Linked DNA regions of Homo sapiens: regions 1, 2, 3 and 4 are each reported to be linked to region 5. Evidence: microRNA targets listed by miRTarBase, many of them from high-throughput screens and not tested one by one. Region 5 holds a microRNA gene; each other region holds the end of a gene's coding sequence.
Evidence for each region. Region 5 holds the annotated microRNA hsa-miR-4731-5p (UGCUGGGGGCCACAUGAGUGUG, at 1,676-1,697, opposite strand). A microRNA usually pairs through its seed, bases 2 to 8, with sites in the 3' UTR of a target mRNA and lowers its output. Matches are read on the target gene's strand: a 7mer-m8 pairs with bases 2 to 8, a 7mer-A1 pairs with bases 2 to 7 and ends in A, and an 8mer does both.

Region 1 (5,889 bases), not on the chromosome of region 5:
ATGGGTGCGGTGGCTCACGCCTGTAATCTCAGCACTTTAGGAGGCCATTGCAGGTGGGGATCACCTGAGGTCAGGAGTTCAAGACCAGTCTGGCCAACATGGTGAAAGCCTGTCTCTGCGAAAGTACAAAAATTAGCCGGGCATGATGGCAGGTGCCTGTAATCCCAGCTACTCCGGAGGCTGAGGCAGGAGACTCTCTTGAACCCGGGAGGAGGAGGTTGCAGTAAGTCAAGATTGCGCCATTGAACTCTAGCCTGGGTGACAGAGTGAGACTCCGTCTAAAAAAAAATGTCCCTTCAAATAGCTCTCCTCTATATGGTTGTCATCAACTAGATACACACATTGATTAGTTTTATGATATTGTCAATGCTTAGGGATTTTAAGATTTTTATAATTATATGCTATATTTACATTATTCCAAAGTATAAATCTAAAAAGGAAGGTATATTTAATGAAGTCTAGTCTAGTCTCTGTCCCTCTCCTGCTCCCATTTCCCTCCATCCCTTTATAAGAAACTATTTTTATTTATTTTATTTTATTTTTATTTATTTATTTATTTTTTTTTTTTTTGAGACGGAGTCTCGTTCTGTTGCCCAGGCTGGAGCACAGTGGCGCGATCTCGGCTCACTGCAAGCTCCGCCTCCCAGGTTCACGCCATTCTCCTGCCTCAGCCTCCTGAGTAGCTGGGACTACAGGCACCCACTACCACGCCCGGCTAATTTTTTTTGTATTTTTAGTAGAGACGGGGTTTCACCGTGTTAGCCAGGATGGTCTCGATCTCCTGACCTCGTGATCCACCCACCTTGGCCTCCCAAAGTGCTGGGATTACAGGCGTGAGCCACCGCACCCGGCCAAGAAACTATTTTTAAAATAATTTATTCTTCCATTGCTTTTTTTTTCTTAACATACATCAAGATAGATACTGTATTTTCTTCCCTTTCTTTTATAAAGGTAATATAATATATTATACGTACTTTACCTACCTTGCTTTTTTTACTTAATAAAATAACCTGGAATCATTCTCTAGTAGTTTGTAGACTTTTATCCCTTTTCTTCCCGACTAGCTAGTATTCCATTTTGAGAATGTACAGTAGTCACCTGGTCCCTGTTGATGGCAATTAAATTGTTTCCACCTTTTCTGTTATAAATAATTAGGCAATGAATAGCCTTGTTTGTGAATATGTGTTTTCAGTTTCTTTTTCTGGTTTATTTTTTGGATAGATTCTTAGAAGTGGGATTGCTGGGTGAAGAGGTAAATTAGGTTAATTTTCTTATATGCTGCCAAATTCCCCTTTATAGAGGCTGCAGTATTTTAACATCCCTACCAGCAACATATAAGTGAGTTTTGCCAACAAAATATATTGCCAAACTGTATTTTTTAACCAGTCTAGACTGTTAGTGAAAAATGGTATCTTTATGCAGTTTTGTTTTGCATTTTTTAAGTAAGCAAGCCAAGTGAGATGTTTGTCTTTTTTGGGGGGAGAGGGGACGGTTTTCTGACTTTTCTGATCAGTTCTGTTTTTTATATTTTATTTTTCAGAGTCAATACAGATTTGTATGTGAAGCTATTTTGAAAGTTTATGAAGAAGGCTTTGTTAAACCCTTAACAACATCAACAAATAAATAAGAAAGCAAAAAGATCTGGGATATGTGTTGGAAAACTGCTTTCCCTTATGTTCACTGTGCCATAATGCTGCTCGCAGGAAATGGCATTTTACAAAAAAAAAATGAAGAACTCAAAAAAACTTTGAAAACTTCAGCACTGTTGCACTTTATGTTTTAAAAAATGTCACTCTTTCAAAATCTATAACTCATGTATTTGAAGACTGTTTCATGCTTTGCTCCGAACAAATAGTAAATAACTGAGTATGTTCAGGGTAATTTATGAAATTTTGTGGTGGTGCCATGCAATCCCCTTTTGGTAGAATTGCCACAAACAAGGCTCAAAATTCTCATCATCTCTGTTATACACCTGTATCATGAAAGCAAAAAGAAGTAAACATCAGGAGTCAGCTCTGGTCTTTTGCAGTGGTTTGCGTACTTACTATACTGATTACCAGATTTTATTTTTAAAATTTTAGCAATATCGTTCTTAATATTAGCCAATACACTGCCTATGGATGCAGCACATTTTTCCCTGCACACCCCCTGTAGAGACCTGCCTGCTGCTCAGAAGAAGAAAGATGGAATTTGCTGTTCCCAGGAAATGCTGCACATTGTCCATTTACCAGCATCTTATAGAAAATATAAATATGAATCTACAAATTCTCTTGGATTTAATAATGTAACTTATATTTATCATAAGGTTGGCTTATTCCAAATCATGTGATTTCACATACTTGATGTAAAGGAATGCATGCATTGTGTCTTAACCCCTTAAGTGCCTTGAGACGTCCTTGTATGTCTAACGAAAAGGCACTCATTTGACCCCACTAGGAGGTATATATGTATATTGTACATTCGTATATTTTTATGCATTTTGAATAAGTTCACATTTTAAAAAACAGCTATATTGAGTGTTATACAGTCAAAGAAGGGTAAGGAAATTCTGTTTCTTACTCAGTACTCGTGATTTGCTATAAGAAGCAAAGATAATTTGTGTTCTACTGAGTGCACACTGCTGCTATGGAATTGTTCAAAATCTGCACATTCCTTTACTTGAGGGACTGAGGGGTTACGGTTTAGCAGCTCAACTTTAAAAGATGCTTTTATGCTTCAAATTTCATATTTATTTCATCCCTAACTTTAGGAAGACATCTAACATGCAGATTAATGTTAAACATATTGATAATCTAAGCTAAAGTTAGAGCAAATAATTGTGATTTATTCATGTCCATAACTAAAATATTATTCTTTAGCACTCATTTCAGTTAATATCAAGCTTTGTTCACACTGATATATTGATTGGGATTCTTCAAACGAAGAATGAAACATTATTGACTTATTTCTAAGTGTAATAACTCAATAACTAAATTGAGAATTTTCTTGTTTTTTTGTGTACAATTAAATTATTCCATTTTATATATACTTATTAAGTTATAAGCATGTTAATAAGGAGACTTTTGACTGTCCAGCCTAATGGAGGATCTGATTCCCATTAAGGATGTGGGAATTCCCGTATTTTCCTCTTCAGGTTTTTTTGTTTTTAAGTCTACAGAGAGATAGAACCTTAACATTGCCCAGTTTGATAAAAGTGAAAATTTGCTCACCTATACAAATGTTATTTTACACAATTATTTTATGTGGATTGGGGTTTTAAAAGATTCATTTCCTAGCAGTTTCTGAATATTTCTGTAAGATCTTGATAAAGTTTAGAGTCAAATGGCAGATATTTTGGAAAGCCATTTAGTATGAGGGGAAGAGTACACATTTTAAATCTTTGGTATAATCTAAACGATGTCATTTCAGACATTCAAAACTCATAATAATAAATTTCAGGAAATCAAGCTCCTAAACATTAATAGCCAAGATACCAAATAAATTATCATATTAAAATATTTAAGTTTATTTAAAGAGAGAAGTAAACATAAACTTATGTCAAAGAGAAATTCTCTTAATCTATTTCCTGACTTCACAGTCAAAACAGTATAAGATAGTGAAGTAACTTATAATCTTATTTGGTCATTCTGTTCTATAAACAGACAAATATAATTTAGGCTGCTATATGACATGATAAATTAAAAACTGAGAAAGTAAAATTATGTCGGGGTCTACACATTAAATGACTGTTTTGGCAGTTTTTCACCTGAATTTAAAAATAAAATTTGTCTGTTCTATCTGTATGGACAGAATATGACAACCATAGACCAAAAGATATCATTGTATAGATGTAAAGAGACAAAAGTCATGGTTGGCATGTTCTTTAATTTAGGGCCTTGTTTATACTTGTGAGTTTAATAATTTCTTGGCAATGAGCACTGCTGCCTTTTTAAATCATCAATGCCTGTCTTTAAATGCCAATCATTAGAAGTTTAGAATTACATTTAAATTTCTCATATATGAATTTTTCATCTGGGAACTACCCACTGTCGTCATTTTTATGTGCAGAAAAGATCCTTTTTGAAAACCATATTTATTGGGATCTTATTTAAATTTAAATTATCCTTTACAACTTCTTAAAATGAATATGCTAATAGATAAGACTTTATCCATTACATCTAAGAACTTTTTAACCTGTATATCAATCTAAATAGGTTTCTAGAAATAATCCTAGCTTTCATACACCATGTAGTTCTAGACTCCGTCCATATCAGTGTAACATTGTGTGATAAAATGCCAAATGTCTTGTATCTAAGCTACGCTCCCACTCTTCCAGCCACCCCTACCTCCCACCTTGACACCCTTAAGAAAGCAATGCTGACTTTTATTCTGACAAGTGGAAATCAATAGTGGTTAATCAAGTGGATTTTGTAAATGCTAAGAAGTGTTTGTGAAAACCTTCCCTTTCTGAGTTAGGATTGTTTTTTCCTGTTCATTTCAGGTGTTTTATTGAGCATCTGATTTGTGTCAGCACCATGTAAATATGATGAGGAGTATTTGGAATAGACTTTACATTCACCAGAAAATTGATAGTATTTGTTAAACCAATGCATCCATTCAAAATAGAGGCAGAGTAAACAGCCTAAGAAATGATTTCCTTTCTACAGTCTGCTAGGAGAAAGAGGTGAGAGGGGAGTGGTTGATGATTTTAATCAAGAGTAAAGGGAACATTTATTACATGAAATCTGACTTCAGTTGTGCAAAGGTATGTTAAGACATTAAGACAATTGCTGGAAGGTTTCAAATATGTGTACACACACATAGAGCTACTTTTGTGTGTTTATTTATATGTATATTTCACAAAGGCTAATGCCCACAGAGGAAAATGATTATTTTAACTTCTGGGTTATCATCTGCTGGCAGGGTCTGATCAGGTCTAGAGTATTTAAGGAAAAGTCTCCTGTCTTCTATCTCCACTAGAAGTACTGCAGCTTGAGAGCTGAAAGGAACTTGAAAAATGTTATCCAGTCTTCACTTAGCCCATTTTTATCGGCATTAGGAAATAGGGTTCAGCAATGGTTATTGATTTAGCAGTCTGGTCTTATATGATCTGCTTTCTAATTATCTATCTAGTATTCCTATATTATACTGGAACTTCAATAAATTATAACCTATGTGAATATCATAAATTCTTGTGAATTTTTGTCTATTTCCAGTAGAGAAGCATACTCAGCCAATGTTTTCACTTAATAACTATGACAACCTTAAAGGATGTCACTTAAGTTAGAAAATAAGCAGGCTTAAGAAGTGATTCTAATTAGGACCCCCACTCAGTTTGCTAGTCATGCCTGCCTGACAGAACATAAGCTTTTGTAAAGTATTTAGACTGATAACACATGCAGTATGAAAACATTATAGACTGCAGTTAGAAGACTAATTTTTTAAAAGCACTCAAAACATAGAACTAAGATTTAGAATATATGTCCATTTATAATGAAATAATTTGTGTTCATAATGTGAACATGTAAGATAAGTAAATAAAGCATTACTTGTTTTATAATATCAGGAAGAGAGAAGGAAACATTAGTTTATAACAATGTGCTATTTAATATCTGTATTTTGAACATTTAAAATACTCTGATGGTAAGGTTGCCAAAGTAATTTTGAATTCATAAAAATTGTTTATACCACAATAATGTGGGATATGTTTACAGGCTCTTTTATTTTGTGGTAGTTACTTTATAGTTCAGATGAATTTGCATTTCAGTCACTTATAGTAAATAAAGTATATTAAATATTTGTTGGAATAAAAATCTCAATGTAATAGGACATAGATAAATTATGCAACAGCCTGCTTTGATGAAAGCTGGTGCATTATGTGAGCTGCCACAGTTAATACTTTGTATTAAC
Region 2 (5,560 bases), not on the chromosome of region 5:
CCGGTCAGCATTGACTGGGTGACCTGTATACCAGGGAGAATGCTTTTACACACGCGCGGAGCCCCCCTAGGAGACTGCCGATTTTATGTCAGTGTTGAGGTTGTGGAAACAGGCCCAGAAAGTTAGGAAGTTCTCCCAGGATCATGTGGCAGATAAGCGGTAGACTAAGTAACAACTTTGATAGGAAAGTGTCTCTTGGGTTTAGTGGGGTCCTTGTAAACAGGTACATCTGTCACTGGGTTGGGTCATTCCTCTCCCTTGACTGCTGACAATTCTTTCCTGAATCCTGGCCTCAGCTCCTGGACAATCCCAAGTTCCGGGTGATCACCAAGATCAAAACCATTGGCAGCACGTATATGGCGGCTTCAGGAGTCACCCCCGATGTCAACACCAATGGCTTTGCCAGCTCCAACAAGGTAGCTAACCCCAGTAGCCAGAGAGATGAGGCTCTGCCCCCAAGGCAAGAGATTGGCAGCCCAGACCTAGCATGGGGGAAATAAGAACTGCTGTGCAAAGTGGTCCCAGACACACACCACCAGCACCACGTAAATATAAATAAGAAATAGGGTTTATTGAGAAAGTTCGGCAAGCAGAGAAACAGAACAGACACACAACCCCCTGCTGTTCACAGCTCAGGCCTAAGATGGTTGTGTTCTGTGGCCAGGCCCCCTAAGGCTCTGTGCTTTCATAGGAACTGGAGAGCAATTGTCAACAAGGGAAACTGAAAGCATGGCCTTCAGAACTCTGGCTGACGGCAGCCTGTTCTTTTGTTAAGCTAATTTAGACCTTTGTTCAGCTACCAGGAGAGAAAATTAGGTGTAGGAGCCCTGGTCCCAAGCTCTGGTCTTAAAACACCATCATCCTGCTTTACCTCTACAACCATCCCACGGCCCTATTATATGGATGAGGTTAAAGAAACACGTCCAAGGCGGGTCATCCCCCTCCAGTGCTTATCACCTAGTTGAGGGATCCAAACAAGGACAACCTGACAAAACCTAAGGACCAGGACCAGGCCCAGCCAAGGTGAAGGGGTCCGCCTCGTGGTCAGACTCACAGGTCCGTCTCCTCTGCTCAATTGCCCAGTCTTTGCCTAGACCTGCTACGTGAACTTTGTCACAGTGGCAAGTCAGAGCTAGCGTGGCTGCGACTCCTTTGTGGGAGGAAAAGTAAGGCCTTGAACATCTAGGTGTAGGGAATCCACCCCCAGAACACTGCCAGGGAAGGCAGCAGAGCAGGCTGCTGCAGTGAGCGGCCCCTGACACTTTCTCCACGGTCCCCTGGCACAGGAAGACAAGTCCGAGAGAGAGCGCTGGCAGCACCTGGCTGACCTGGCCGACTTCGCGCTGGCCATGAAGGATACGCTCACCAACATCAACAACCAGTCCTTCAATAACTTCATGCTGCGCATAGGTGAGCACCCCCAGCTGGCCTGCCCCGCAGCAGGCTCCCTTCCCATGCAGGGGCCTGGCCCACCACCAGGAGAGACATGAGGCTCAGGACAACTGAGGCAATTCGGGTGGGGAGGTTCACGCACTCACAGGGCAAGGAGACCTGAAAGACCTTTAGTCCAGACGACTCTAGATGACTAAACCAAAAACCCAGCTGATGTGATGATCCGACTATACTGTGCCTACTGTTACAATAGAAGCTTGGCCTGCCTGGCTGAGAAGTGAGTTTGTGATCCATTTCCAGAGGGGTTGCTGTGCCTGCTGAGGACATGGCTTCCCAGACAGGCCTGCTCTTTGAAAGGAGTTAAGATCACCTGCTGCTTCTACTGAGGGGGTATCATTCCTGAGTGAGGTCCCAGGAGACTTGAAATACCAGCTGTGTTAGAAGCTGGCCACTACCATGCCGAGTAAATCTGCATATGGGGGGGGGGTGGCGGCTGACACCTAACAAGCACACGGATAAACAGGAGATGTGATTTCCACCCTCCAATAGCATACAGCCAAGTTGAATGAGGACAATGATGTGTTACATTAGGAGCTTTGTGGTACAGGTCTGGAGAGGAGATGGCTTCTGAGGCCCATAACAAGGTGTGGCCTGTGGCTGTGCTGAACTTTATGCCTCTACCCTAGGCATGAACAAAGGCGGGGTTCTGGCTGGGGTCATCGGAGCCCGGAAACCACACTACGACATCTGGGGCAATACAGTCAATGTAGCCAGCAGGATGGAGTCCACGGGGGTCATGGGCAACATTCAGGTATGTCCAGTGGCACAGCTGGCACGTGCTCAGACTCGGCATGAGAACAAAACCGGAACAGTGCTTTCCCACGTGCCCCTGCCTCCCACCCTGGCCCTGAACAGTAAGTCCAGAGGCAGAGACGTGGGGCAAGTGGAAAAGAATCTCTGCAATAGCTAGCCTCAGCACAGGAAGAAACACTTCCACCCATCCACAAAATCTGGGCTGAAGTTCTAGATGCATATGGCCTACCTTTGGGTATGAACCTTCTAATACCTTGTGATCTGTCTCAGTGGCGTCTGGCAGAAAAGCTCCACGAAAGGGGCAAAGGGACAGAAGAGCAGGCAGTGGCAGTTTCCAGGTAACAGTGCTGCCACCCAGGTGACCATGGCCATCCTAGGAGAGAAGTCTCTGGATGAGAGGAGGCCCCCAGCCAGTCACTCCAGGGTTCTCCTTCCCACCCGCTGCTCGCCACGGGTGGAAGGGCTTGGCCCTGGGAGGTTTGGGGAGTGTCCCGTACTGCTTGGGACCCATGGATCAGTGCTCGGCTCCAACCACCCAAAGCCCCCACCCGCCCTCAGTCTAGGCTCCCCCCGTAACGCCACGTTCTTGCTCCCCCTCCCTCTCCAGGTGGTAGAAGAAACCCAAGTCATCCTCCGAGAGTACGGCTTCCGCTTTGTGAGGCGAGGCCCCATCTTTGTGAAGGGGAAGGGGGAGCTGCTGACCTTCTTCTTGAAGGGGCGGGATAAGCTAGCCACCTTCCCCAATGGCCCCTCTGTCACACTGCCCCACCAGGTGGTGGACAACTCCTGAATGGCCTCGAGCCTGCAACAGTCCAAACCGGAAGGGAGAATTTATTTTTTGAAACTGAAGGAAGTCCCGACCTTCCTGGATTGAAGTGCACACTCATGGACTTTAGGTTTAGAAACCTCCTCAGCCTTCATTTGTTCGTGGATGTGTGAGCTCTGAGGGTGGCCCTGCTATTCCTGTGTGTGCCTGTAGTGTCCCCAGCATAGGGGTCTTAGGCATAGGGCTGAACAGTCCTTCCAGAGCCCTCGTTCCAATCCCTGCCGTCCTTGCCCCTGAGGGGCCCTGACCACTGTGAGCAGGAGGGTGGCAGAGCTGGGACAAAGCTGCCTTTGCCGCTGGGCTTTCCGGGACTGTGGAGGGAGCACAGGCGGGGAAGCTCCACTTCAGACAGGGCTTGGTGGGGCAGGACATGGCTCCCATTTTGAAGGGAGGTCTCCATGTGGTCCGAGTGAGGTGAGACGGCCCTCGTCCTGGTGTTCCTGATCATCTTGAAAGGTTCTTCTGGAACTCCTGTCCCCTTAGTCATGAGAACAGAAAGTGCAATATTTCCTTTCACCTGGCAGGGGAGGGGGGATTTATTTCTGAAAGAAAAATATATAAACAGATCTTCTACATTTATATTTTTAATCTTCTGTTAAATACACTTTCCGATATTGCCTTGCCTTTTGAGCTCTTGCTACAGTCGCCTTTGCTACTGCTTTAAGAGAATTTACAGGTATTGATAAAGAACAAGACTGTTTTATTAAAAGCTTTATTCAACTTGAAAGTGATTGTGGAAATTCTGTTAATATCACTTATCTGAGGAGTGCTGGTACTTTGCTGACTCATGCCACTGGTCCCCACCACAGGCCTGGAAGGCAAGAGCTTGAAGGTCTCATCATAGCTCACTGTACCCCGGAACGCCTGCTGCCTGGCCCTGTCTCTTTTATTCTTAAACTTTCTTCTAAAGGGTACTCCAAGCTGGCTTTAATCCCCTGCACTGTTCCTGGAGCTCTCCCACACGGAGGTTACTTCGTGGCCATTGCAGGGTTAAGTCTGAACGTGGCCTTGGGCCAGTCATGACTCCTATCTGTGCCTGGGCAAGGGAGGGCTACAGGAGAACCTGGTCAGCCAGACACAGGTTTTCATATCTGTGAGTGACCCACACGCCAAGGAACCAGAGGTGCCAGCAGGTCAGAGGCCCGTGGTTACGGCAAATCAGGACACTAACCGGAGAGCCTGCAGGAGAGGGAAGACCCGGGGGGCGCCTGAGTCCCCCTGAGTTAATGGGCAGATTTCTAACTAACTAACTGTGCTTTTTCAGAGGGGACTTCCTAGTACATTCACAGCTCTACTAAACTTTTAGGAAACAAAATATGAGACACACTGAACTCTGATTATTTTATCCTACTGCTTTCTCACACCATATTTATAAAGCAGTGGCCTAGAATACACTGCGCCTAACCAAACAAACACTGAAGAACTTCCTTTTCAAAAGTTTCAAACAGGAAAATGAGGAAAAATTACTTAAAGCTTTCATAAAAGCTAAAAATACTTTCCTTTTAAAAAAAAAAAAATATTGGGTCTTCCTTATTATCTTCATTAGTGAATGTGGGTTATTTTTCCATTTATTTAGATCAGTGTTTCTCAACAGAATCAAGCTATTGCAGTTTGAGTGGAGTGCTACATTTCTGTGAGAGCCCTTTCTGAAAATTTTAGGATTTTTGGCATCTCTATTCCTGGCATTAAATTAGTAGCAGTTACTGTGACAACTTAATTGCCTGGTCTTTCCCAGAGTTAATGCCCTCAATAATTTGATATTTTTCCATAAGTACTTCTTGAGTGATACACCTTTTTCAAAAAATGGCTTTTATTGCCCCACAAATGATTTTCAACTAAAATGTATGATCAACTAATACCTTTAAAAAACATCTTGAGCATTTTAAGAAGGGACCAGGTGATCATGGGAATTGTTCAAAAATGCCAGTGTCTATACTCAAACCTGCTCTTCCATCCAGATGAACAGGTAGGTGTCTGTTTTCATCAGAAGGGTGATGTACCCTTCATCAGACAGTACTACCCACCTGGTACTGTCTTCAGTACTGGTTACTTACCTCTGATGTGCTCCCAGTGCAGTGAAAACAATCTATTAGGAGACCAGACTCATATCCAACTTTTCTCCTTTTCTTGTAAATGAGGCAAACACTTGATGCAAGGGCTTCGTACAGAACAGAGTTTCATGAGATGCTCGTTGCTCCTCCCATGAAGTGGATAATACTTCCACTCCTAAAAAGAAAGATTCCATCAATCTCATTCAGTGCAGCTGGGGGAATCGGAGCCTGGATCACTGATATTCAATCTCATTCAGTGCAGCTGGGGGAATCGGAGCCTGGATCACTGACATTCAATCTCACTCAGTGCAGCTGGGGGAATCGGAACCTGGATCACTGATATTCTGGACCCACTGGACCCATACAGCTTTTTTTTTTGGTCTGGACTAAGGCTGCCCCTTACTGGACCAATGCAATCTAGAGACTGGGGACTGGAATCTAACTGCGCAGAGAAATCAAAGACCGATGGTGTGAAATC
Region 3 (5,733 bases), not on the chromosome of region 5:
TGAACTTACATTCCTTACGGGTGGATGGTTATAGAAAAGGGAGCTGGGCTTCCCAAGAACCACAGCAGCATGACTCACAGTCATTGCTGCCTCTCCTGGGAATTATTCGACCCATCTAGGTAAAAGCAAGGTAACTTATTTTTGCCGCGTTGTTTACGCATCGGTTTCTAGTGTTGACTTTGCAAAGCACAGAGTTCTCAGTGTGTTATCCTTATGTGTTATTCCAGATCCCAACTGCTCCGCCAAGTCACACAGGAAGACACCTTTGGTGAAAGACTTTAAGTTCCAGAGAATCAGAATTTCTCTTACCGATTTGCCTCCCTGGCTGTGTCTTTCTTGAGGGAGAAATCGGTAACAGTTGCCGAACCAGGCCGCCTCACAGCCAGGAAATTTGGAAATCCTAGCCAAGGGGATTTCGTGTAAATGTGAACACTGACGAACTGAAAAGCTAACACCGACTGCCCGCCCCTCCCCTGCCACACACACAGACACGTAATACCAGACCAACCTCAATCCCCGCAAACTAAAGCAAAGCTAATTGCAAATAGTATTAGGCTCACTGGAAAATGTGGCTGGGAAGACTGTTTCATCCTCTGGGGGTAGAACAGAACCAAATTCACAGCTGGTGGGCCAGACTGGTGTTGGTTGGAGGTGGGGGGCTCCCACTCTTATCACCTCTCCCCAGCAAGTGCTGGACCCCAGGTAGCCTCTTGGAGATGACCGTTGCGTTGAGGACAAATGGGGACTTTGCCACCGGCTTGCCTGGTGGTTTGCACATTTCAGGGGGGTCAGGAGAGTTAAGGAGGTTGTGGGTGGGATTCCAAGGTGAGGCCCAACTGAATCGTGGGGTGAGCTTTATAGCCAGTAGAGGTGGAGGGACCCTGGCATGTGCCAAAGAAGAGGCCCTCTGGGTGATGAAGTGACCATCACATTTGGAAAGTGATCAACCACTGTTCCTTCTATGGGGCTCTTGCTCTAGTGTCTATGGTGAGAACACAGGCCCCGCCCCTTCCCTTGTAGAGCCATAGAAATATTCTGGCTTGGGGCAGCAGTCCCTTCTTCCCTTGATCATCTCGCCCTGTTCCTACACTTACGGGTGTATCTCCAAATCCTCTCCCAATTTTATTCCCTTATTCATTTCAAGAGCTCCAATGGGGTCTCCAGCTGAAAGCCCCTCCGGGAGGCAGGTTGGAAGGCAGGCACCACGGCAGGTTTTCCGCGATGATGTCACCTAGCAGGGCTTCAGGGGTTCCCACTAGGATGCAGAGATGACCTCTCGCTGCCTCACAAGCAGTGACACCTCGGGTCCTTTCCGTTGCTATGGTGAAAATTCCTGGATGGAATGGATCACATGAGGGTTTCTTGTTGCTTTTGGAGGGTGTGGGGGATATTTTGTTTTGGTTTTTCTGCAGGTTCCATGAAAACAGCCCTTTTCCAAGCCCATTGTTTCTGTCATGGTTTCCATCTGTCCTGAGCAAGTCATTCCTTTGTTATTTAGCATTTCGAACATCTCGGCCATTCAAAGCCCCCATGTTCTCTGCACTGTTTGGCCAGCATAACCTCTAGCATCGATTCAAAGCAGAGTTTTAACCTGACGGCATGGAATGTATAAATGAGGGTGGGTCCTTCTGCAGATACTCTAATCACTACATTGCTTTTTCTATAAAACTACCCATAAGCCTTTAACCTTTAAAGAAAAATGAAAAAGGTTAGTGTTTGGGGGCCGGGGGAGGACTGACCGCTTCATAAGCCAGTACGTCTGAGCTGAGTATGTTTCAATAAACCTTTTGATATTTCTCAAGGCCCTAGTCTCTGCTGTCTCCCCTCCCCACCCCATCCTTGCAAAGCACTGGGGAAAGTAAGGCCAATCTGGCCCTCCCTGTGTGACCCGCCTTCGAGTTTTCCTTAACAGTTAGTACATTTCCTTGTGTTACCACGCATGGGGAAGAAAACGCATGGCCCCAGAATGCCACCCCCACCTGACCTCCCCGGAAGCACCCCGCCTCTGCCCAGAGCATGTGCTTGCTTCTAGAGAATCCCGTTCCAGTCATTGCGTGGACAGAAAACGTAAGAGTCCTGGGGAGGGGTGGGAGGGAATGAAGCTAGGACCTGGGGTGGGGGTGGGGGCGGTTGCATGCGGACCCGGTATTCTGAAAAGAAAGAAATCTTCAAACACCTCGGTCCTGTCCGGTGAAAAAACGACAGCATTACACATTCTCGTGCCAGGAAATGGTTACTCACCCCCGCTCTCTGGAGTCCTTTGGAGCTTTCTGATACCATTCACACGATGGAGCAATTCACACGTTCGTTTTCTAAGTTCTTTATTGTCCAAGCATATAAGGTGAGCACAGCACAAATGGCTGCCATGGAAAGTCGTGCTTCCCCAGCATAAGAACAGAGCCATCTTTGAGCCATGGGAAGCCTCATTTAATGAGACCTTTTTCCCCCCTTTTAAATCTGATATGTTATCGCACTTAGGGTTTTGTTTTATTTTGGCTTTTAAGGTTGAGAGTGGGCTGAACGCCTTCATAATGGGGGCGGAGGCGGGAGTGAGAGGAGAAGGGAGAGAGCTGTTCTTTTTCTAATGACTACACCTGAAAAGTATCAAGAGACATCTTTGCCAAGAGACTGTAGCAGCCAGCTGCCCCCCGTGGAGCAAGGTTTAAAGACAAAATTAAATGGCACCTCTGTTTAAGATCTGCGTGTGTAAACAAGACTCGTTTGGGGAAAACGACCCGGGAGGAGAGCATCTGTGATCAAAATCTCTCATTGTAAGCACAAATTGTTCCGTGTCTGGTTATTAAAATCGCTTTGGGTCTATAACAGCCACTCTTGTCCCCCCTTTTAATAGAAAATTGTCATTCTAGCCTGGATTTCTCCCCACTGGAGGTGGAGGGTGGGAAGAGAAGGGAGTCAGCTCTGACAGCTTACAAACTGGGAAGTTCTGTGCATCTCCAGGGATTCCAGAGTTGAAGATCTGGTTGTTGGAAGCTGGGCGCCCAGTGCTTTTTTTTTTTTTTTTTTTTAGCCCAGATGCCGTCAGGACCCACTGAACAAGGGTGAACTCGGGTGGTGGTCTCGGTTGGCCAAGGCTGAGTTGAACGCCTCAGGCCAAACCCCAAGTTGAAAGGGAGCATTGTGGCTTTTATAATCCAATGATGCAATGATGATACCAGCTTACAGGAGTTCTCAGCAGGTGCTTTTTATTAACTGATGAAGAGCTAAGGCTCACTTTTGATAGATAATATATATTTATTAAATGCATTAATGTGTGTTTTATAATGTACCTTTATCTTCCCCCGGCTGACTGTTGCATACTTATAAAAAAGAAGTTAAAGAAATTTCAAGACAATCAATATGTACCATAAACGACTATATAAATATTACAAATTTAAAAGGCTGTAAACCATGGGCAGATAGGTTTTATTTTCAAAATGCTGTTCTTAACACAAAAATAAAGGCTTTACTATTTACTTAAGACGTGTGGTAGCTTGTCAAAACAACCCAGTGCAACTAACTACTAGGCTTTCGGATCTGCCTTGAGGGTCGGTCTGTGGCATTTTAAATGGGAGAATCTTGGTTAACAGCAAACCACAGAACATATTAAGGTAATAAGTTTACCCATAAAAGCAGGAACTTTCTATATAATACTTTGGGACTTAGACAACAAAAATCCTTTGTTACATCTGTCTGGGTTTAAGTGTCTCATCTTGTTGGGTTTGCAGTAAAAGTTAAGGAGTGGTCTCCTTTGGAAATGATCATTAAGTATAAGGTCTTTTTTATAAAGAGAGTAGTCAGTCACTAGGTAAACTTAAAACCAAATTCAGAGGTTGGGGACTTAAATTAGAATATGGATCTTTGCAAAGGCGGCCACAAGTGGGAAAACTGGTAATAAGAGCACTTCTGTATTCCTTGGGACTAGAGTTCATTGTACATTTTAACAGCAGCTGGTGTAGAAGAATACTCCTGAGGCACTGAAGAAGTAATCTGGATGAATGAATAAAATGTGGGGATAATGCAGAAAGTGAAGACTGGTCCTTTCTTTTCTAAACTATTTGCATTAAAGCTTGTTTGCAATGAATCCTATCTTGTACAGAAAAGATTCCATTTGCACATGTTCCAAGTCTTGTTAAAGAAATCACAAGAGAGAGAGCATCATTTGGACATTTTCCTTGCACAAGGTAACTTGTGCTCGAATGGGCAAAGATACGTCTTAGCTATGGTTAAGATGATGGAATTTTCATCTTGGCTGCAGGTACTGCATCGTCCTCCATTTTGCATTTCACTGCAAAGAAAAGAAAGGGAAAGTCAGGATCAATTTACATACGTAGACAGGCTTGTCATTGGGAAACCGGAAACTCTGATGTGTGGACAAGGTCAGTTGCACCAAAACCCACTGTGCGCCTGCTATTCATGGTTCCGGCCCCATGGATCCACGGGGAAGAACACAGGCCCATTGTGCTCTAAGGACAGCACCTGAAAGTTCAAAACCACTTCCCGGACTGTTCATGGCCATTCTTAATTCAGTTCAGAAAGAGGTCAGAAGTGTGCTTTGCCGGTCAGGGTACTGAAGGAAGGCAATTTTACTAAAGACGATGACAGATTCCAGGCTCTCCGCTCAACCCCATCTGTCACCACACACCCTGTTCTCCAGCCACCCAAAATGGAAAACTCAGGGTATCACTGGGGGCAATGCAAAGGTCTGAAGAAAATCTTTTCTCTTATGTCATGGTCTGGACCAAGAACCTGATCTCGGTGATTTCCTGTGTCTGCCAAACAGGAAAGTTAGCTCCATACAGGGTATGGCTCTGTGTGTAAGGGGAATTAATCCCAACAGATAAAAGCCTCTCCCCAATTAAATATGGAAACCCAGTCCCTTGGTGGGTGCAGTAGGGATCCTTTTGGAAAGACCCTCTCTTTTAATATATCTTTGTCTGGAGTGTCCAAGTGCTGCTTGCCCATATGTGAATGTCTTGAAAGGTGGTTTGAGCCAGGCCACAGGTTCTGATGATTTGTGGAGAGCATTGTTCTGGTAAAAAGGGTGTTTGAGCTTGTTACTATGTAGGGCTGAGGTTTCAAGTGAACCTGCCCTCGTCCTGACCTCCCAGCAACTAAGGGCATGCACCAGCCAGATGCGGCAAAGAGGTGGGTATGTACACCATCCCATGAAATGCACTTTTTTGTTTTTTTGGGGACAGAGTCTCTCTTGTCCAGGCTGGAGTGCAGTGGCAAGATCTCGGCACACTGCAACCTCCGCCTCGCAGGTTCAAGCGATTCTCCTGCCTCAGCATCCCAAGTAGCTACAGGCGTGCACCACCACGCCCTGCTACTTTTTGTATTTTTAGTAGAGATGGGTTTCCCAATGTTGCCCAGGCTGGTCTCGAACTCCCAGCCTCAAGTGATCCACCCGCCTCAGCCTCCCAAAGTGCTGGGGTTACAGGTGTGAGCCACTGCGCCTGGCCCTGTGGTTATTTTCTGATGGAGGTGGGATGAGGGCCTTCAGCAACACAGACCAGCCCTGCAGTCTTCAAACTGAGGGCAAGGGTTCTTGGTCATGGTTCATTCAAAGGAAATCAATTTCCAGATCATCAGCTTCCCACCCTCCTGTCATTCCTGGCCCAGTGTGTAAAGACTCCCCAGGTGCCAAACAAGAAGGCAGTTCAAAATGAGGGCCCTCAGAGTCTCCTTATTTTCTATGTTTGACAACTATCAAATTGTATCATGTATTTATTT
Region 4 (5,889 bases), not on the chromosome of region 5:
CAGCTACTTGGGAGGCTGAGGCAGGAGAATCGCTTGAACCTGGGAGGTGGAGGTTGCATTGAGCTGAGATTGTGTCTCTGCATTCCAGCCCAGGCGACAGAGCCAGACCCTGTCTTGAAAAAAAAAAAAAAAAAAGAAAAAGAAAAAAGAAAGGAAAAAGAAGGAAACAGGAAATGAGGAATAGTTCCATTAGGTCACACAGCAAGCCAGTGATGGAGTGGAGCTGGCAATTCTGATAGCATCTCTCTCCTTCTTTCTACCTGTTCTGCCACCTTTTGTTATCTTACATACTTGTCAAAATACAACCTGAGGAAAGCAAGAGTGCCAGGGCATGGTGAAGGCTAGGAATAGTCTGCTGCAAAGCAGGGAAGCCATTTTTCCCTCACTGGCTATGGGGAACCCTATGTTAACAGTGACTGAGCTTTTTCCTTAGTTGATCTTGTGCAGCATCTAACCTGGATGTGAGCAAACCAGTGTAAGAAATGAAACTGTAAAGGGAAAAAAGTGGATACGAAGGGAGGCAGGCATACTTAACATGAAGAAAACCTGGTCATTTGGCACTCTTTCAGTTAGGTTCTTTCACTTGGCTGGAGGTCTGGTGTGCCATAGCAGTTCTGCAAGCCTGCCAGAGAAATCTAACGATGAGAGTACAGTACCTTCATTGTCTAAACTTCCTCCCAACTAGTTAAGTGAAACTAGCTAAATGAGCAGCGCTGGCTTATTCCTTCGGAGTCATATTTTTTAACATGTGAAATATAATTATTGTAAGAGTCCACTCTCTTAAGTTTCAGGATTTGTTGGAAGACTGGGAATAGAGGGTGGCCATTGCCAGACCTGTAACTTGTAGAGCTGTGAGCCCAGCCATCTCCTGGGGCACTTTCCCAGGCTCTCTCAGAATTTCTGGGAGAAGGAACTGCCAGCTTCACCCCTGCAGTGCCCCCATGTCTGCTGGGCCCTTGCAACTTGAGAACTGGAGTTGGGCACTAGAGACAGGGCTTCCAGGATGTGGGTCTTCCTCTGGCTTGGCCATCCCAGGTCAGTCAGCTCTGGCAATGGAGGGCTCCAGCTGATCTTTTGGCTGTGGAAGGATGACTGGGTAGGGTACCACAAGGCTGTCCCTAAGTTATTAGGTTGAACCATAGGAAATTGTCAATATTTGACCATTCTGTTCTTCGAAATAGTGATTTCATATGGTTCAGCTTAAATTTCTAATATGGGGAAAGAAAGGAAAGAAATGGAAGCCCAAATAATCTATTGCCTGCACTAGGAAGCAGAATATATTTTCCAGAACATTAGTCTCTGTAGGGAAAAGAGAGATCAGACTGTTACTGTGTCTATGTAGAAAGGAAGACATGAGAAATTCCATTTTGATCTGTTCTAAGAAAATTGCTTTGCCTTGAGATGCTGTTAATCTGTAACTTTAGCCCCAACCCTGTGCTTACAGAAACATGTGCTGTATGGAATCAAGGTTTAAGGGATCTAGGACTGTGCAGGACGTGCCTCATTAACAGTATGTTTACAGGCAGTATGCTTGGTAAAAGTCATCGCCATTCTCCATTCTCAATTAACCAGGGGCAAAATGCACTGTGGAAAGCCGCAGGGACCTCTGCCCAAGAAAGCCTGGGTATTGTCCAAGGTTTCCCCCCACTGAGACAGCCTGAGATATGGCCTCCCGGGAAGGGAAAGACCTGACCATCCCCCAGCCCGACACCCGCAAAGGGTCTGTGCTGAGGGGGATTAGTAAAAGAGGAAGGCCTCTTGTGGTTGAGATGAGGAAGGCCTCTGTCTCCTGCATGCCCCTGGGAACAGCATGTCTTGGTGTAAAACCCGATCCTATGTTCGTTCCATTCTGAGATAGGAGAAAACCACCCTGTGGCTGGAGCCAAGATACGCTGGCGGCAATGCTGCTGTTACTCTTTGCTACACTGAGATGTTTGGGTGGAGAGAAGCATAAATCTGGCCTACGTACACATCTGGGCATAGTACCTTCCCTTGAACTTATTTGTAACACAGATTCCTTTGCTCACAGATTTTCCTGCTGACCTTCTCCCCACTATCACCCTGTTCTCCTGCTGCATTCCCCTTGCCGAGATAGTGAAAACAGTAATCAATAAATACTGAGAGAGCTGAGACTGGGGCCGGTGCGGGTCCTCTGTATGCTGAGCACCGGTCCCCTGGGCCCAGGGTTCTTTCTTTATACTTTGTCTCTGTGCCTTATTTCTTTTCTCAGTCTCTCATCCCACCTGATGAGAAACACCCACAGGTGTGGAGGGGCTGGCCCCCTTCAACTCTCCGTTCATTTTTTAGTTTTGTTGAGGCTCTTTTACAGGTTGAATTGTGTCCTCCCAAAAAAGGTATGTTGTGGTCCTAATCTCCAATACCTCATAAGGTCACTTTATTTGGAAATACATTTTTTACAGAGGTAATCAAGTTAAAATGAGGTCATTCAGGTGGGTCCATTATGACTGGTTTCCTTATAAAAAGAGGAGACTTGGACACAGAGATAGATCTGCACAGAGGGAAGACACTGTGGAGACACACAGAGGGAATGCCATGTGAAGATGGAGGACTGGAATGATGCATCTAGAAGCCAAGGAACACCTGAGGCTCCCAGAAGCCAGGAGGGAGGCGTGGACAGCTCCTTCCCTAGCACTTTCAGGAGAATGGCCTTGGTCAACACCTTGATTTTGAACTTCTGGCCTCCAGAACTGAGAGACAATGAGTTTTTGTTGGTTTAAACAATCCAGTTTGTACTACTTTGCTACAGCAGCCCTAGGAAATGAACACAGGCTCCTTCCAGTGATGAAAACCTATGCTGTTGGTAAGAAACAACAGTACAGCCTGGGTTAAAAATGGCACAGTGGTTTAATCTCTAGAATCTCAGACAACAGATTTGAGGTATTCATTCCTATAGGATCTGGCTGTGCTTCCTACACTGACCAAAAAAGATTCATGTGTTCAGATACAACAAAGCTAGCTTTCTAACTTACTAACTTACAATGTATATGCATATGCACATGCCTGTGTGTTTCCCACCATGTATTTATTCTTCATGCTTGGTTTTCTAGCATTTTCAAGTTTGCAGTAAAAGGTTCAATACACATTTATTTCTCTAGTCTGCAGTGGAGCAGGTAACATATCCTAAGGAGACAAGAGTTTTTTTTTTTTGTTTGTTTGTTTGTTTGAGATGGGTTCTTGTTCTGTTGCCCAGGTTGGAGTGATGTGGCATGATCTTGGCTCACTGCAACCTCTTCCTCCTGGGTTCAAGCAATTCTCCTGCCTCAGCCTCCTGAGTAGCTGGGACTACAGGCGTACGCCACCATGCCTGGATAATTTTTTGTATTTTAGTAGAGACGGAGTTTCATCGTGTTGCCCAGACTGATCTTGAACTCCTGAGCTCAGGCAATCCGCCTGCCTCGGCCTCCTAAAGTGCTGGGATTATAGGTGTGAGCCACAGCGCCTGGCCCGAGAGTTGTCGATATGCTCGCAGGAAGTATTTCTGTGTTAAAAAGTTGAGAAGATGGAAACTGAATCCTCTTTGTATTCAGAAGGCTGTTTCGGAAGGTCACTGTTGGCAGGCTTCTCCCTACAGGGATTCAGCAGTGAGGGAGCAGAGTATTTGGGGGACAACTGCTTCTTCTGGAGGGGCGAGAATGAGATGGAGTTCACCAGCAGCTCTTTATGTCAGACTTTTAGCAGGATTCAGCTTTATAAATAAGCCTAAACAAACAAAATAACAGCAGATGATTATATGTCAACTGACTTCAATTTGATGGACTACTCTAAATAGAAAGACATATACAAAAGAAGGATTTGATTCACATTTGTAGCTTCAGTCTATCTGTCCACTCTCATTTTTCAGCCAAATTAAGAATCAGCTTTTGACTATCACAATACTGTATTACTTCTCCCTGGGTAACCAGGTCCTCACCACTTGGCCATTTCATGGTTCCTCACTACTTCCATTAGAAATGAAAAGAACTAAAATTACAAGTGAGCCATCTGGCACCTTTATGATATTGAAAGGTTTAGTGAGACAGGAAGTACAAACCACAGCCTGGAATGGAGTTCTTAAATTGACTGTGGATTTAAGTTATTATCTTCCACCTGCTCCTTAAATCCATCATTCCTGCAAATGCTTCATACTTAAGAGGAAAAATAAATTTCTTAAACAAGATACAAAAAAATTAGCCATAAAGGGAAAAATGTAATAAATGCAACTAAATTGACATTAAAAATTTCTGTTCATAAAGAAGATACCTTAAAGCAAATAAAAGACAACTTACACACTGTAAGGAGGTATGTGCAACTTATATATCCAACAAAAAATTGTTCTAATAGAAAATATATAAAGAACATCTATAAATCAGTAAGAAAATGAGAACAAATGGAAAAAAAGCTGAACAAACAAAAATTTCACAGAATGGGAAAAAATATGGTCAATAAACATATGAAGAGACACTCAACCACACAGGTAATCAGAGAAATGCAAATCAAGATCACACCGAGAAGTCATTTTATAGTCATTTGACTGGCAAAAATCATGAAGTCTGACTTCACTAATTGCTAGAGAAGATGGGAATCTAAAGAATCTCATATATTGCTGGTGGGAGTTTAATTTGGTACAGGCTTAGAAAACAATTTTGCATTCCTCTGTAAAGCTGAATACTCACAATACTCTACCACCCAGAAATTCTGTTCCTAAGTATATGCCAAGCTCTTGCCCATGCACACCACCAGGAGACATGAACAAGAATGTTTATAGCAGCCCCATTTGTAATAGTCAGAGGCCTGTCACTGGAAGAGAGACATTCATTGTGGGACAGTCACATATGGAGTATTACACAGTGGTACAAACAAGTGAACACAGCCAACAACATGGATGAACCTCAGTACTCCAGGGAAGTAACAGGTCATGTGTGTGACTTTCCTGAGACAGTCTACACACACATAAATATAGACATATTTTTCTTATTTATGGTATCACAATATTTCACCATTTTTTAATGGCACACACATACAATATAGTTCATAGGTGAGCTGTAGTTCTTTAACCAGTCTCCTATTGATGGATAGCTATGTTTGCTACGTTTTGCCATTTTTCTTGCTATTGCAAATAATGTTGCATGAGTGACACAATCACTGGAACCCGATAGCAATCTAACACATTATAATTTTGCAGTTATTATACCTGTGAGATAAAGTCCTGGAGGTGGGTCAAAGGGCATATCACTTTGTAAATTTTTTTTTTTTTTTTGAGACAGGGTCTGGCTCTGTCACCCAGGCTGGAGTGCAGAGGTGCGATCTCAGCTCACTGCAACCTCTGTCTCCTGGGTTCAAGGGAGCCTCCCATCTCAGCCTCCCAAGTAGCTGGGACTACAGGCGCACACTACCATGCCCCGCTAATTTTTTGTATTTTTTGTAGAGATGGGGTCTTGCCATGTTGCCAAGGCTGGTCTCGAACTCCTGGGCTCAAGTGATCCTCCCACCTTAGCCTACCAAAGTGCGGGGACTACAGGCATGAGCTTATGCATTGGGCTGTAATTTTGATAGCTGTTGGCAACTTGCCCTTTACTAGCAATGTATAAGAATATCTTTAACTTGTTCTTTGTATGACAGGGAATTAAGAATTTTTTGGCATGTATGGGTTATAATACCAGGGCAAAAAACCAAACCAAACCAAAACACCCCCCTGACCCCCACAAAACCCAAATCAACCAACCAACCAACCAACCAAAACTCCCAACCCAACCCAACTAAACCCCAAGAAAGAGATAAGACCAGCTTCTTACTTGTCGCCTCTGAGTATAGGGTCTTCTCATCAACACTCTGAACATTACAGGAAACAAAAAATTTCCTTCCTTCAACTTTATCAAGTTGGCTATTTAT
Region 5 (5,363 bases):
CTGCAAGCTCCGCCTCCCGGGTTCACGCCATTCTCCTGCCTCAGCCTCCCGAGTAGCTGGGACTACAGGCACCGGCCACCACGCCCGGCTAATTTTGTTTTGTATTTTTAGTAGAGACAGGGTTTCACCGTGTTAGCCAGGATGGTCTCAATCTCCTGACCTTGTAATCCGCCCGCCTCAGCCTCCCAAAGTGCTGGGATTATAGGCGTGAGCCACCGCGCCCAGCCGAGGTAATTTCTTAAGTGACAATATCTCCTGGCATTCCTCCCTCATCACTGGCTGTTCATCCCCAGTCTCCTCTCCTTCCTGTACCCTCGTTAACCCCTGGCATGCCCAAGACTTAGCTCTGAACCCTGTTCCCCTTTTCTGCCTTCTGCTCTCAACTCCTCCCCAAGTAACTGTATTCAGCACCACAACATTGAATACCCTTCGGTATAGAGGAATGACTCTTGACTTTGAATTTCCAGCCCAGACCTCTCCCCTAAGCCAAAGACTTCTAAATTGAAGTGATTTGCTGACCTCTCTGATGGTCAAAATATAAATCCTGATTTCTACACCTTCCCGCAAATCTTCTGTTCCTCCTCCAGTCTCCCCATCTCAGTCCAAGATTCAGTTACACACCAGTTGCTCAAGCCCAAAACGTAGAGTCATCTAGAATCATTCTTCCCTAACTCCCTACATCTAACCCATCAGCAAACCCTGTCATGAGACCTGTTTTCTTCTCTACTTCCCCTCCCTAGCTAAGCCACCAGCTACCTCCTAGAGTTCTTGTGAGGATTAAATGCATTGCTTTTCAAAGAATGCCTGGCACTTACGTGAGCTGTTTGTATTCTTAACATCATTGTCATTGTCATCATTGTCATCTCAGTGTCATCATCATGTCCAGTCTGGACTATGACCACAAACTCCTCACTGGTCCCCAGTTTCCACTCTTGCCTCTCCCCAGAATTCATTCTCAACAGCCAGAATGAGCTTACAAAACATGAATCAAATCATGACACTCTTCTGCTTAAAACCCTTCAATGATGTCCCAACTGTCCTTCTCAGTACCACAGCCTGTGAGGCACCAGCGATCCTGCTCCCATCCCTCTCTCCCGCATTCCCCACCCTCCTTTCTTCAGCTAACTCAGGGCCTTGGTTCTTCCCTTTACCTCCTAGAATTTTCTTCCCATGGTTCTTCCTATAACTGGTCCTTCCCTGTCTTCTAAATCTCAGACCACATCACTATGGAAGGAAGAGGCCTTCCCTGAGCAGCTCATTCCTCCAGTGATGACTTTCCATTGGATCACCCTATTTGTTTCCTGCAGAGCATGTTCCACTACCCATAGTGATGCATGTATTGTGTATTGCCTGTTTCCTCCAACTCCTTGTGAGCTGCACAATGGCAGGGACCTGCTCTTTCTTGTTCATCTCTGTGCACCCCATTTCTAGAACAGTGCCCAGTACATAGGACAGGCTCAATAGAGTTGAAGAACACATGAATGGATCTCACTATTAGCTCTTCAAAAACAAAAGAGGCTCTCTTGAAGGTAATAAGTTCCCCATCAGTGGTAGGATGAACATGTGGTAGGCATATTGCAGAGGGGTCTGTGGCTCGATGGGATAGGAAGGAGGGATGGGCCAGATGACTCCGGGTCCCTGCCAGTGTTGGGGGCCACTTGTGTGTGGATGACTGCACACTCATGTGGCCCCCAGCACTGGCAGGGACCTGACCACAGTCAGAAGGCTTCATCCCAGACAGCCTTCTCTCGGGCACCAAAGATCAACATCCACAACCTCAGGCTGCACCATGGCCAGTCCCTGCTCCTGAAATGCAAGGGATGTTTTCTTGGTGCTGGTGAAATCTTGGGGATACAATTGAAGTTTTTTTAAAGCAAAGACTATAGATTCCAGGTCATACAGTTCAGACACAGGTTCAAACAAACATTTCATACTAATTCCTGGGTATTGGCATCAGAGAAACCCTAAGGGTTGAAATCCTGGCATGTTGACAACACATTCCGTCCTCTGTACCTCCCTTGTACCACCAGGGTCTCAGCATCTCATAAGAGCCTGTAAAATCCAGAGCCATTCCTTGGGTAGAGATTATGGGTTGGCTGAGGGAGCCACGAAGATTTTAAAATGTAAAACATGAACCCATAAATGCAGAAGGTCTCCCGTGTTTTCTAAAATCTGGCCAAAAGCTGAGCCACAGACAAGGAAATTGTCTGGTGTCCTTGCCAAAATGACAGTGTCACCAAATTGATAAACAAGTCTGGGATCGTTTTGAAGACAGCGATGATAGGAGACCACCAAGGGCTCAGGTTGGGGGCTGCTGAGACTGGCAAGATTTAGTTTCTCTAATTTTCAACCCAAAGCATTGATCTAATTCCTCACACAACCTATTGATAGTCATGAGTTTGCTGTTGCTGCTGCTGCTGCTGCTGCTGCTGCTGCTGCTGCTGTTTAAATGGAAAAGAAGAGTAGTAAGTGGTCATCTTCTCAGCGTCTGGTGCTGGTCCCGCCCACACACTGTGGCAGAGCAGACCCACCTGTTGTCACTGGGAAATGAGGGGCTGCAGGTACTGCCCTTAGACAATGGAGGTGGCCAAGGACGTTTGGGGACAGATTACAGGAAAGCTCAACAATTCCCTTCATGCTTTGGTGTTGAGCACTGGCCTCCTTTTTAAAAACAAAAGTGATTCAAAAAGGGGCACATTTTTTGTGCCTAACACCTCAGCATGAAAAAGTTTATCAACTACCTTTTCTTCTGAGACAAGAGAGGACTTTGTGAGCAGGGACAGGCCCTGAGAGACAGATTTTACTGAAGACAAACTGCCTGGGTCCTGCCTCATCACTGAAGCTGATGAAGACCAGCCAGGGGCCAGGGCAAGCCAGGACTGTGCCCTTCTAGCTCTTGGGCTCCCAAGCCGCCTGTGGCTTAATTCCAGTATTCTGACCCATTCTGCTACACGTCAGGTCCACACAAATTAAACAAAAAGCAGGGGAATGCTTGTGAGAACTTGGACTTGATATTTGGATCTTGGAGACTTCAAAACAAAAAGCACTGGTTCATTCAATAGCAGGGCAAATGTTTTGCCTGAATCCTTTGGGTCAGTAGATTTTAAACTCACCCATAGGGTCTTGGGGAGGAGGCTTGGCACACCCCTCCCCCTCACCAGAGCCTTCCAGATTGTATGAGTTTGCAAACTAAAGCTCCAGGAACTGGCCTCATTCAAAGCGACGCCATGGACCCTGCGTGCCATGCCCCAGGGCTCCACTCTCTTAATCAAGGCAGAGGGAACCTACTTACTACTCAAAACCAATTTTCTAACATAAAATGTTCACAGTTATTTTCTGATTGTGAAAATAAAAGATCTCAATGAGGAAAACAGGTAAGGCAGCAAAAGAAAGAAAACAGCCAAAGTGATAAGAATCCCGTCACCCAAAATAATCACTGAAAATATACCGATGCATTTCTACCTTGTACAATTTCTGATATATTCTGCCTTATAGAGGCTTCTGGACTGTCACTCCAACTTGGAATCAAATGGACCACTGAGAAACCCGTGGAAGACAGCAGGTCTAAGGAAATCACAAAGATTAGAAATGCATCCATGTGCACCCAACTCCTTCCTAGTGGGGGTGGGGGGTACCTTTGAGATGGTCTGTGATTCTACTTACCCCTCACTCTCTGTTCCCACTAGTCTGCCCTGCCCTCTGTCCCTCAACTACGCCAAGCTCCTTCCCTCCCCAGCGATCTTGCACTTGACGGTCCTTCTGTATGGAACCTCCCCGAGATGTTCATATGGCTGGCTCCTGGCCACTCCTCAAGGAGACCTTCCTTCACCACTGCAATCCCTCTTTATCCCATTACCCTGTCTTATATAGTTCTTACCATTGCCCCCAAATTCTCCATGTTTACTGACTGGTTTGTCCAGTAAAACATAAGCTCTTGTTCACTCTTGTAACCTTAGCACCTGCAATAGTCTCTGGTACACGAGAGTTGTTCAAGAAATAGTCCTGCATGAAAGATCAGAAGAGAAATGGAGAGACTCCCGAAGTGGGAAGTTCACATTTCAGGACGTGAGAAAACGCTGAAATTCCAAGATGAGGGGAAGAGAGATGGGAGGTGAGACTTAACAGAAGCAGGAGTGGATCATTCAGGTAGATTCCGATGGGCCTTGTTAAAGATTTTCATCTGAAGATTAAGACCAATGAACGGCCTCTGAAAGGTTTCAAAATGAGGAGTGATATAATTAGGTTTGTGCTTTTTTAAATATCAGCCTGGATTCCATATGAAAAATGAGTCACAGAGGAGCAAGAAAGGGTTCAGGCAAACTAGTTAGGAGGCTGCCCTGGCGCCTCTGACAAACGAGGAAGCAGCGTGACCACAGGTGGGCAACAGGCATTGGAACAATGGGGTGGCCTGAGGGACCCGTGACAATGCTGAGAAGAGAAAGAAGGAAACGCGTCAAGTCAAGGCAGACTCTAGATGTTTGGCTTGCTGGCTGGTGAAGCAGCATTCACTAAAATACTAGAAAGTGACAGAGGGGTTGAATTGGCAGAGGAAGATAAGGACTGTCTCTGGCCTAGTGACTTGGGGGCCTCTCTTAGATATCCCAAGGGAAGTGGCCAGGAGACAGCTGGATAAACAGGTCTGGGATTCAGAAGAGAGGTCTGGACTCATTAAATAATAATAAGATGGCCAGGCATGGTGGCTCACGCTTGTAATCTCAGCACTTTGGGAGGCTGAGGCAGGTGGATCACCTGAGGTCGGGAGTTCGAGACCAGCCTGACCAACATGGAGAAAGCCCGTCTCTACTAAAAATACAAAAAATTAGCCAAGCGTGGTGGCGCATGCCTGTAATCCCAGCTACCCGGGAGGCTGAGGCAGGAGAATTGCTTGAACCCGGGAAGCGGAGGTTGCAGTGAGCCAAGATGGCGCCACTGAACTCCAGCCTGGGCAACAAGAGTGAAACTCTGTCTCAATAATAATAATAAGACTTACTTATACCTGGAGAGGTGGTAGAAATAGAGAGAGAGAAGCCTCAACAGGTCCTAAAGTTTCTGAGAAGAGCCCATGTGAGAATGGTGGGGTGGCTGACAGAGCCCAGGATGCAGCAGAGATGGACTCTTTGAAGAATGCTGAAATAACTGGGACTTATGGAACTGCATAGGGCCCAACTGAGCTATTGCAAAAGAGTATGATTGGGTATGGGAGGGGATGGTCAAACCCTCAAGGAAAGTATTCCACACCAGGCTTACAGAGAGGTATTTGCTGCCAGGTTTCTATGATTTGAAAAGCCATGCTTCCCCCAAGGCCGAATGACTATATTTCTCAGCCTCTCTTGTAAATAGGTGTAGGTGTGACCATGTCACAT

Region 1: miRTarBase lists PTPN4 as a target of hsa-miR-4731-5p. The part of its 3' UTR that is shown has no 7-base or 8-base seed match.
Region 2: the mRNA of CENPO is a reported target of hsa-miR-4731-5p. Seed matches in the 3' UTR shown: 7mer-m8 at 2,102-2,108.
Region 3: miRTarBase lists GPRC5B as a target of hsa-miR-4731-5p. Seed matches in the 3' UTR shown: 8mer at 680-687 and 8mer at 2,382-2,389.
Region 4: the mRNA of THEM4 is a reported target of hsa-miR-4731-5p. Seed matches in the 3' UTR shown: 7mer-A1 at 3,431-3,437 and 7mer-A1 at 947-953.

The regions. Positions count from the first base shown.
Region 1 is chr2:119,975,444-119,981,332 of GRCh38, forward strand. It overlaps PTPN4 (protein tyrosine phosphatase non-receptor type 4), which reads left to right. Exons shown (of 27, transcript NM_002830.4): 27 at 1,541-5,889. The coding sequence ends at 1,627. Among named protein-coding and RNA genes, the nearest start is that of EPB41L5, 35 kb to the right of the region's middle.
Region 2 is chr2:24,817,367-24,822,926 of GRCh38, reverse strand. CENPO (centromere protein O) reads right to left here. Exons shown (of 8, transcript NM_001322101.2): 7 at 5,086-5,257; 8 at 551-3,573. The coding sequence ends at 5,121. ADCY3 (adenylate cyclase 3) reads left to right here. Exons shown (of 22, transcript NM_004036.5): 19 at 297-416; 20 at 1,287-1,410; 21 at 2,079-2,203; 22 at 2,813-3,758. The coding sequence ends at 2,995. Among named protein-coding and RNA genes, the nearest start is that of CENPO, 27 kb to the right of the region's middle. RefSeq lists enhancers at 1-417, 418-961.
Region 3 is chr16:19,855,039-19,860,771 of GRCh38, reverse strand. It overlaps GPRC5B (G protein-coupled receptor class C group 5 member B), which reads left to right. Exons shown (of 4, transcript NM_016235.3): 4 at 228-4,081. The coding sequence ends at 272. IQCK (IQ motif containing K) reads right to left here. Exons shown (of 9, transcript NM_153208.3): 9 at 2,305-4,285. The coding sequence ends at 4,224. Among named protein-coding and RNA genes, the nearest start is that of GPRC5B, 27 kb to the left of the region's middle. RefSeq lists enhancers at 1-113, 1,387-2,586.
Region 4 is chr1:151,871,209-151,877,097 of GRCh38, forward strand. It overlaps THEM4 (thioesterase superfamily member 4), which reads right to left. Exons shown (of 6, transcript NM_053055.5): 5 at 5,793-5,889; 6 at 1-3,720. The coding sequence ends at 3,680. Among named protein-coding and RNA genes, the nearest start is that of THEM5, 20 kb to the left of the region's middle.
Region 5 is chr17:15,249,991-15,255,353 of GRCh38, forward strand. MIR4731 (microRNA 4731) reads right to left here and starts at 1,706; the gene lies at 1,637-1,706. The region is part of intron 3 of PMP22 (peripheral myelin protein 22); the gene reads right to left.